Regions from separate parts of the Homo sapiens genome. Here region 1 is linked to region 2. A link means that fine-mapping ties the variant in region 2 to the expression of a gene that starts in the linked region. Tissue or cell type: whole blood. Region 2 holds a variant in brackets; the other region holds the start of a gene. All regions are shown on one strand. Distances are from middle to middle.

Region 1 (5,387 bases), 48 kb after region 2:
TAAAAAGAAGAGAAAATTTCTAGAATTCTAAGGAGAGTCTTTTCTGAGAGAGGTTTTCTTCAAGGTTAGTGAAATTAAAAATATATTCCTCAATATTTTGAGAAAAGTTGAAATGGACTCCCCGCTTCTGCCAATAAAATGTTTCCATTAGCTACCAGGCTAATCTCTAACATACTGGTGAGTACAGGGAATTCTCATGTCATGTGCACACAATAGTAATAGAAAGAGGAACAATAACCGTCTGTGAAAAACTAAATGGCTGAAGTTCAAAGATAATAAATACCTACCAGGCTCAGCATCATTCACCATTTTTCTCTTTTTCTTCTTTTTCTTTTTTGATTCTGAATTGGAAGACTGCATTGCTGCTTCTCCATTGGTTAATACAGTGGATTTCTGGGGAGACTTTGTAACTTTTATATTTCCCACTGCTTCTTGAGACATGCCTCCATTTTGAGTTTCTGATAAGCCCACATTCATGGGCTTTTGTTTTGATTTTTTAACCTTTCTACTTCCCATTGTTTCTTCAGATACATCTCCATTTTGAGTTTCCGATAGGGTCAGATTTGAGGCCCCTGTTTAAATAAACAGAACATATACTGTGACAAAGAAGGAGAAGTTTACTTAGAAACACTGAAATCCCAAATGAGAACTTCCATGGCTTCCTGACACAAATTATTTAGATTTTCTTCTCTTTCATGTAATTAAAACAACTTATAGTTTTATGGTGTTCCCTTATAGGGAAAGTAAGTTATCTTAAAGAAAAAATACTGGAAAAGGGAAAGCTATATTGATTTCTTAACTGCAAAAGACCGTACATCTGACTTTAAGGAGTCTAGGACAGGAAAACTTCAATGAGGTCAAATATTTAAACAGATGAGGTCAGATAATGGCAGTTACAGAATAAACATAAGTATTTGATAAACATATGATTAACTGATATATTGAAAAAGACATTTACAACTCATTCACACAAGTACTATTTTTCATACCACTTCAAAACATTCAACCCCAACTCTTCTAGACTGCAGTGAGTTGAAAATTCAGTTGATAAGACCACTTATTTGCTCCAATATTTATCATATGCAAATACAGTAATGCGTGCACAATGACATTTCTGTGAATTAAGGACAACATATACAGTGGCTCCATAAGATTATAACGGAGCTAAAAAATTCCTATCACCTAGTGCCATCAGTAACTGCAATGTCGTAGTGCAACATATTACTCATGTTTGTAGTGATGCTAGTATAAACAAATCTACTGTAATGCCAGTCGTATAAAGTACAGCACACATAATTATGTACAATACATAATACGTGATAATAAACTATGTTACTTGTTTATGTGTTTACTATACTTTTGATCATCATTTTAGAGTTTACTCCTTTTACTTATTAAAAAAAAATGAGTCGACTGTAAAAGAGCCTCAGGGAGAGAGGTATTTTAGAAGGCACTGTTATCATAGGAGATGACAGCTCCATGCCTATTGTTGCCCCTGAAGATCTTCCAGTGGGACAAGATGTGGAAGCGGAAGACAGTGAAACTGAATGTGTCTGTGTCTTTACATTTTTAACAAAAAGCTTAAAAAGAAAAAAAAATAAAATAAAAATCACATAGAATAAGGACAAAAGGAAACTTTTTGTACAGCTGTATGTACAATGTGCTTGTGTTGTAAGCTAAGTGTTATTAAAGTCAAAAGGTTAAAATTTAACAAGTTTATAATGTAAAAGTTACAGCAGGCTAAGGTTAATTTAAGAATAAAAGTATTAAAAAACTCAACAGTGTAGCCCAAGTGTACAGTGTTTATAAAGTCTATAGTGTACAGTAATGTTCTAGGCCTTCACATTCACTCACCGCTCACTGACTCGCTCAGGGTAACTTCCAGTCCTGCAAACTCCATTCATGGTAAGTACTGTATACAGAGGTACCATTTTCTAAATCTCTCATGTCATAGTCTTTTTACTGTACCTTTTCTATGTTTAGATATATTTAGCCATACATACACTTACCATTGTGTTACAATTCTCTGAGTATAGTACAGTAACATGCTGTACAGGATGACAGCTTACGAGCAACAGGCTATATCATGTAGCCTGGGTGTGTAGTAGATTTAGGTTTGTGTAACTAGATAAAGTTCGCAAAACGACAAAAGCCCCTAATGACACATTTCTCACAATGTATCCCCCCTCCTGTTATGCGATGCATGACTGTACCTGAGAATGTCCTTACCAAAGGTTCCCTGTTTGTTTACTGAAAAAGATAAAACACCATCTTTTGTTCAAATTTACTTACATATGCGCTGAAAAGTAGTAATGCTGTAGTATTATTCTATAGGAATTAGAAATACAAGAGTATTTCAAAACATATTCCTAAAATTCACAAACCTATTGCCTCCTGCAGAATTTTTTTTCAATTAATGTCTGTTGAAAACCAACTGGGGCAAGGCACTGTGCCTCCAAACTTTCCCTCGGGGAGTTTGTATCTTAACCTGGACAACAGGTTAACACAATTACTTCAAGATCTGTGGCCCCACTGTCAGGACACTGGGACTGCAAATGAGGTAGGTAAGAAAGGTGACATTCAGATAAAATCCTTTTCATTTAGGTCACTGTGCGGGACACAAATACGTAGAAGCTCTGGTGAGAAAGTGCTACGAGAACGTGTGGAAGTGGGTAGAGGAAGGCAATAGTATCAAAGAAGCTCTGTGGAAACAGCCAGACGGGCTTTTGGGGAAAGAAATACGGGAATTAAATAGATGTGAAAAGTGGGTGGAAATGAGACGTTTCATGCAGCATAACCGGAAATGAGGGATGAGGTGAGGTGCGACTTGCAGGTGGTGAGGGAACCAAAAGCTAAGGTGGAAATGCAAAAGGCAGGGTTAGTCGTAAGCCTAGAAGTGAACGGGGAGTCCTCCCGCTCTAACGTTGTAAGAAGACACTGATTGCTCAGAAAGGTCAGGAGCAGCGCTGGAGCCACGCGACGAGTGGGCAGCAGCGCGGGTCCCGAGTGGAAGCTGCCTTTTCACTCTCCCCAATCACACACGCTGCAGGGGAAGCTGCCTCCGTCACACAGAGCAGCTGGGCCCCCGGCCGCCCGAACGCGCCAGGGCTCGCGCGTGGGTCTTCTGAGCCACCGCGAGTCAACGCATCTCACCCTGAAACTTTAGGTTCCGCTGCCGCAATTTGAGGTTCCGCTTCTCGATCTTCTTACGCAGGAGTTTCATCGGCAGGTGTGACATTCTGCCCAACAAGTGCCTAGAATAAGGCGCCACACAGTACAGCTACTCAGTTCTCAGGCTGACGTTACTTCCCTTCCGGCCGCACGTGCGCAGCTCGGCCAACAGGAAACGCGTCACAGGAACGCTGGCACCCGGCGGAACGAAAATGCTCCAGAGCGGAAATGCTTCCAGACGCGCGCACCGTGATATCTTTGGCGACCAAAATCTTTGCAGCGCCCCCTGGAGAAGTGGAAGCGAGACGCTGCACTGGCTTCACACTGTGCTAAAGCTAACTTGAGCTCCCCCTAGAGGAAGACTGAAGAAAGAACGTGGAGGGGAAGGAGGCCTTAGGGAGTCCGCATTTTTATGTTCCTATCCTCTGTGGGTGCAGAACTAGAGTTGGCCCTCCCTGTACCTGAATTCCCTGTCTGTGGATTCAACCAACTCCCCCATTGAAAACATTAAAAAAAAAACAATTAAAAATAATACAGTGTGATAACTACTTTCATAGCATTTAGGTTGTATAAGGTATTATAAGTCATTTAGAAATGATTTAAAGTATACAGGATGTTGTGTGTAAAATAAATGCAAATATTACACTATTGTATATAAGGGTTTTGAGTATCCTAAGATATTGGTACCCATAGAGGGTCCTGGACTCAATCCCTTGTGGATACTGAGGGACAACTGTATTTGGGAAACTGAATAGAACTAAATTATATATATGCATTTCCAAACTTGTTTGGCCACTCTCCTCAGAAATACAATTTCTGTGTCACTTGGTACACATACACACATAAATATAACATTTCTCAAAATAATATTCTTGCTTTTCACTCTTTTTCCTTCAATTCCATTCATTCCATCCTAAATTATTCTTTTTAGCTTACTAAAAATACTGATTCCTATGAATTTAAATTAACTTTACTACATTAATAATAGGTTGACTGCAGTTTGAAAAAGAGGTTTATATATTCCTTAAGTATACCCAAGGACCCTTCAGCAGTCCAGGACAGAAATTGCAATGTGGCTAGCTAATAGTCATCTCTTTTTTGGGATGGGGAGGAAGACAGGGGTATGCATATAGTATTTAATTTTTAAAAAAATTGTTATCAACATTAAAATACTTGGAGATTTCCATAAAAATTCATATTTGTCTTTAAAAATTGGCCCAATGCCCTCAAATTCCCCTTAACAGTAATCAATTTGAGCTGAACAACTGGAAGAGTCCATGAAACCTGGATTAATTTGTTTACTTGGAGGGGCAGAACATGAGACCCTGGAGATTAGACCTGATCATAGTGAGGAACAGAGAGGGAGAAAACTTGGGAGGGAGTTTAAACAGAATGTGAAGGAATTGACTTCGAAATCACATTGGATTGGACTGGAAAACTAAGACAAACAAATAATAATGTGCTTAGATTAATTTGTTAATGATCAGGCAGGCTGAAGAATGATTCAGAAATGTAAGAGCGCACACACACACGCAAACATTTATCTCAGTGTAAATATATATGCCAGTTTAAATTTATGCATATATCAGTATATATATGCATATACACATATGTATCTATTTCTATAGCTCTATGTACATACATATATATTTACCTGATTACATGTGTGAGTTTTGGGTCTGTGACTTTGAAATAGATACAACTGAAGTATATATAGAAAGTGCTCAAAATTTGTTATTTCTTTTATGTTGTAACTTAAATTTGTGGGGCTATGTTTTGGTAGTAGTAATGGAAAGGTACTCCCTTTTTTCTAGAGTGTGACTTTTTCTAGCTAGTAGTGAAGATTGGCAGTCATTTCCTCAAAACCAAAAAAACCCACATTTACGAGGTGTTTAAGACATTTAGATCAGAGAAGCCGATCCTTTCAGGTGCATGGAAATGCTTAACGTTAGGGATTGATAACCTTTTAAGAAACATAGATAAAGCTACTGATGCCAATTCTTCTGGATTTTTAGAAGAAGAATGAGAAATTATAACTTCAAATCAACTCTCAAAATTAGGGTTGAGAGTTATTTTTAACAGAGTGAATTTCCAAGGCCACATCATCAGTTACTCTAGCAAAGAAAACAATGTCATTGGGTTAGCTACTCAAAAATTACCTGTGAGGATGAGGTAACAATCACGTGCTTCTGAAAAGCCTGTTGTTCTTCACAGCT
Region 2 (5,387 bases):
ATAAATATATAAACATAAATGGCTCTGTACAGATTTTGGGTCACTTGGGGCCTACTGCACATAACCTTTATGGCAGTGTGTCATTGTTCAAACAAAACGTCAACAAAGAGGACTGGCTTAGAAAGTCAAATTTTTGTAATACAGCATAATCTAAAATCTATGTTCCAAGTTGCCATAAACCCTAAAGCTCAATACCTCACATTTACTTTGCCCTTCACAGTTTACATAGTGCTTTCCCATACACTATTAAATCTTTCAGATACCATTGTACTTTGGACAGATTTCTAGCAGAGCACTTATAAGACTTTATTGCATTTATAATTCTATAATTATAATCTACTAAAAATCCACTGGGAGCAGGAAAGTGCTTATTCATTCTTTGAAACCTCAGAGGACATTGCCTGGTACATAAGATCAGTAAGTCAATCGAGTAATTTTGAACACTACATTCAATATGTTTTGGGAAATACTTCTCCCGAAGATGAAGCCTAATTCCTCTTTTCTTGAGTGTGAGCTGGACTTAGTGACTCACTGCTAATGAATAGAAAATAATCATATGTGACTTCTGAGACTAAGTCATAAAAGGCACTGCAATTTCCTCCTTGCTTCACTCTCTTGGACGGCTTGCTCTGGGGAAAGTCAGCTATCATGTGGTACCACCCAAGCAGCCCTTTGGAGATGTCCTTTTCTCAAGGATCTGAAGCCTCTTGTCAACAGGCATGTGAGTGCTCCATCTTGGAAGCAAAGTTTCCAGCCTCAGTCAAGCTTTTGAATGACTGCAGCCCCATGCAACATCTTGCCTACAGCCAAAAGAGATGTCAAGTCAGAACCACCCAGCTAAGCCATTCTGAATGCCCAACCCACAGAAACTGTGAATTAATACATGTTTGTTCTTTTAAGCCACTAAACTGTGGGATAATTTTCTACACAAGCAATAAATAATCTACCTATGATTATGAGGAATAGCAATAAGAGAAATAAAATAATACTTTTCTTATTAAAGAGAAATAGAAAAATAACAAAAGTAATGCGGTAGCTATTATTTATGGTTTACTACTTAAGGGACTCCACATATGATAGAATTTCATTTGCTCTTCACAAGAATATTAAAAGACACGTGGTAATATTTCCATTTTACATATGCAGAATTGCAGATGTAGATTAAGTCACTTGGCTGAAGTGCTAATAAGTGGCAGTCAAAAAAATTGAAACCCACGTTTCTTTGTTTCCAAGTCCCATGTTCTTAACCACTGTGTACATTATCTCCCAATATATATTTATTAAGAATGAGTGCAAGAACCCAATTCACAATTGCCAAGATTTGGAACCAACCTAAGTGCCCATTGACGAATGAGTAGATAAAGAAAATGTGGTATATATACATAATGGAATACTACTTGGCCATAAGAAGGAATAAAATAATGTCTTTGGCAGCAACTTGGATGAAGCTAGAGGCCATTATTCTGAGAGAAGTAACTCAGGAATGGAAAACCAAATACCATGTGTTCTCACTTATAAGTGGGAGCTAAGCTATGAATATATGGGAAGGCACACAGAGTGATATAATGGACTTTGGAGACTTAGAAGGGGACACTAGTCTGGTGACAATTGCACTAAAGTCTCAGAATTAACCACTATATAATTCATCCATGTAAACAAAAACCACTTGTAGCCCCAAAGCTATTAAAAAATATATTTAAAAATTTTAAAAAGAAAGCAATAGTACGATTAAAAAAAAGAATGAGGGCAAGATATTAACCAAGGCTTCATTATAATTTGTGTGGTCCCTAGACATCTTTGCCTTAATGTATCCCTTCCTTCATTAAGAAATACTGAAAATTATGTTAAACATTAGTATAAGCAAGTATAAGCAAGACTGGATTCATTATAATATATTCATTAGTGTTATATTCATTTTTCCTCTAATTTTAAAAGAAATTAAAATTAAAATATTTCTATGGGTCCCTAAAAGAATTCTGGTTCTAAGTAGTATGACTACTACGCCTGATGGATAACTAGGTCCCAGCATCAAATTGCACACAGAAATCAAACAAGCAATAGCAAAGAAAAGAGAGAGAGATAGGAAAAAAAAAAAAAACCCTTTTAATGTCACATTTTAAAAGCCAAAGAAATAATGTTTCTTCTTTTCTAAACAGTGAAGGGCACAGGGCAGTAGGAAGTAATCGTAACCCATGGGGCTTGCTTTGGGGTGGGGAGCAGATTATAGTGTACATGGGATGCTCAGAGTCTCAGTTTAAGATGTTGAAAGAAAAGACACCAGGGCAGGAATTAAACCTGTCCCCTGAGGGAAGCAGGCAAGGCTTTTGTGCTCAATTGTGTTCAGCTCTCCTGAAAAGGAGAGTTCACCTGAGTAGTTTTGAGATCCTGCTTCGTGGGACCCACCTTGACTGGGCTGTGACTGCCTCATTCCTCTCAAGCAGAGACACCCATGAGCAGAGGGGCAGGCCTCAGAAGTCAAGTCCCTGGAGATGGCATGGAGTAATGAAAACAGTGATTTCTTTTTTCTTTTTTGAGTCGGAGTCTCGCTCTGTCATCAGGCTGGAATGCAGTGGCACGATCTCGCATCACCGTAACCTCCACCTCCTGGGTTCAAGCAATTCTCCTGCCTCAGCCTCCAGAGTAGCTGGGACTACAGGCATGTGCCACCACACCCAGCTAATTTTTGTATTTTTAGTAGAGATGGGGTTTCACCATGTTGGCCAGGATGGTCTCGATTTCTTGACCTCGTGATCCGCCTGCCTCCGCCTCTCAAAGTGCTGGGATTACAGGCATGAGCCACCGCACCTGGCCAAAAATAGTGATTCTTAGATCTGGTACAACCTTCAGACTCTCTACCCAGGAACTGCGTGGTTTTGGATGAACTAGGTTTGTGGTGCCTTACCATAGTTTTCTCTTGCAGTTTTCTCATCTGTAAAATGAGGGCCTTATGGCAAAGACAGTGCTCACCAGATAGCTACATGCTCCCTTCCAATTCACTGCCAATGGCTGGCCAATGGGCTGCAAATAGTGATGACATGCTTCCAGTTCAGGGTAAGGCAGTAAAAAGCTGGCATATCTCCATACATAGCTCTTCTCCCACAATAAATCTGGAAGGCACATGTGCAAGGCAGCATAGCTAAAAATGATAAATGGCCCAAAATCATGAGAGACTGCCTGGAAGAGAGCTGTGCAGGTATGCAGACCCACATTGAACTTTAAGTCAGAGTGAAATAAACTTCTGGTTTGGGGTTACATGTTACCACAGCATGCCTTAGCTTATCCTGACTAATAGAGACTTAATGCCAACTTTACTGAATTGTGAGAA[T/C]GAAATGAAAGGGTGAATGTAAAGCATCAGAAATGTGTCTGGAAGAGACAATTCACTCAATAAACATTTTTTTCCCTTCTCAACTTTGAAAAACTGCATTTTGCCCCAAAGGATTAATCATTGCCCAAAAACTACATTCTGATAAGACCCCTGTCTTATAATATGTTAGTGTTGGGACCTAGACACGGAATTCTGAAAAAGATGAAGGTCTTACACAGCCTCATCAACAGAGGCCTTCAGGCTTCACATAGGCTCCTGTTCCCTGCAGAAAACAGTACAGACACTTTGCAGAGCCTAAACACAATACAACTCATTTCGCCTGGAGAGTAGAATGATGCAGGTGGGGGAAAGTAGAGAGGAAGTATTCCTGGCGCGGTGTTTTACACTTTTGTTTAGATGTCTTGTTTCCAGAAGGCTTGCAAACGTGGACTCAGGAACATTACCCAGAAGTTTGAGTGAGGGCTTGCTGTGACCCATAGAAGCAGCATGCTCCTGAACACTACCCCATCTACAATCTCAGCATCCTGTGATTCAAGGCCCTTAGACATGACTTAGAAGAATACTGTATGTTAGAGAAGTTGAGGCCCAAAGTGGGGAAGGGCTTGCCCCAGGTCCTCCTGCCGGGAGTGGCTAAATTTTTAACAGTTCCTCTTCCTCTCAGAGCTCTCTCTATCCACCAATGGACACTCCAGATTGGCCAGCCTCTCATCCAGGCACCTCTTCCCTGTGTCACCTGCCTGAATGGGAACTGTCAAAAATGAACACTAAAATCAGGCTTGGCAAGGTTTTCCGGCATCCATTTCACCGTGATTTCTCTAAGTGCGCATTGGATTGACGTAGCTATTAAAAGTCAGCCCTAGCTCGGCAATCAGACAGAAAAGCTATAATCACCCCAGGCATTTCCAAGGGACCTTTCAAAGAACATCATTAATTCTGAATAAAACTCTCCCTCACCAACACTTCCAGTTATAGTCTTGACATTCCTATTTTATGCTGCAAAATTCCTCTGCCATTTAATGTAGAAGAAAAAAGGCCTACTTTAAAAATCACATGTATTTGTCCTGTATTCTAAGTATCTGAGTTAATTTTCCAAAATTAAAACAAAACTAGCAACAAAAAACTTTCCTTGTCTCTTTTTGCTCTCATATGCACCTCTTCCCTCACCCATGTATTGTATTTGCAAAGGGCAATAAATCCTGTTAATCTATAGGACCGGGAGCATGTTACTTGAAACACCTGATACCCTCAAAAGAGAAAGTTGAGGCTTCCAGAGTGAGAAGGATGCTGAGCACCTATTAGATCCTGGCCAAAAGGCAGAAAGCTTCAGACAGAATAATAAATACGGTGAGAGAAGATCTGCCGACTGCAATTTTGCTCATCTCATTACATTTCCAGCATTATCTTCCTCCTCCTTATGGACTGCCAGGCAATATCCTGTTGAACCCCTTCTTTCTCCAGCCAGTCTGCCACCCAGTGTGTGCCAGCCACTATGCCAGGTGCTTTACATTCTTCATCTCACGTAATCCTCACCAAGAGCCCTATCAATTACGAATGAACATGTTTAAAGATGAAGAAATGAGACCCACAGATATTAAGCAACTGTCCTAATGTCCCAAGCTGGGATTTGAATCCATGGTTCTCTTTCCTAAATCACTAGAGGATAGCTCCGGGGTTGAGATAAGGAAAGCAAAGTGACACCAATTATTATATTTTAAAATCCTCACTATTCCCCTTGGCAGGGTGCTGGCTAATGGAGTTGGGGAATAGTCTCTGAACTGCAGAGGATAGACTGGGGTACGGTGGAGACAGAAAATAAGGCGTGATTGGTCACAGGAATTTCTGAAAGACGAATTCCCAGTCCACTGCATCCCCTCTAGGTCTAGTTGGGACAAGGAAGCCGGCGGCTCCAGGACTCACATGGACAGGGGCCCTTGAGGGGGAAAACAACAGATAGTGCAGGTAACAAGATGTGCCCTCATCGCTACTGAGACGGGCTGAACCTACAAGCCCCTCCGGCCATATCGTGCGTCGTGGGTCGGTGTCAGATCTGCCTCCCTAACGT

The links.
Region 1: it holds the start of DDX18, and the variant in region 2 is fine-mapped to the expression of DDX18 in whole blood (INTERVAL, PIP 0.92).

The regions. Positions count from the first base shown.
Region 1 is chr2:117,812,629-117,818,015 of GRCh38, reverse strand. DDX18 (DEAD-box helicase 18) reads right to left here and starts at 3,325. Exons shown (of 14, transcript NM_006773.4): 1 at 3,154-3,325; 2 at 288-572. The coding sequence starts at 3,238. RefSeq lists enhancers at 2,468-3,003, 3,079-3,128, 3,149-3,198, 3,329-3,458, 3,004-3,541 and 1 more.
Region 2 is chr2:117,860,505-117,865,891 of GRCh38, reverse strand. It overlaps the pseudogene HTR5BP. Among named protein-coding and RNA genes, the nearest start is that of DDX18, 49 kb to the right of the region's middle. The variant T/C (reference allele first, on the strand shown) is at 3,326.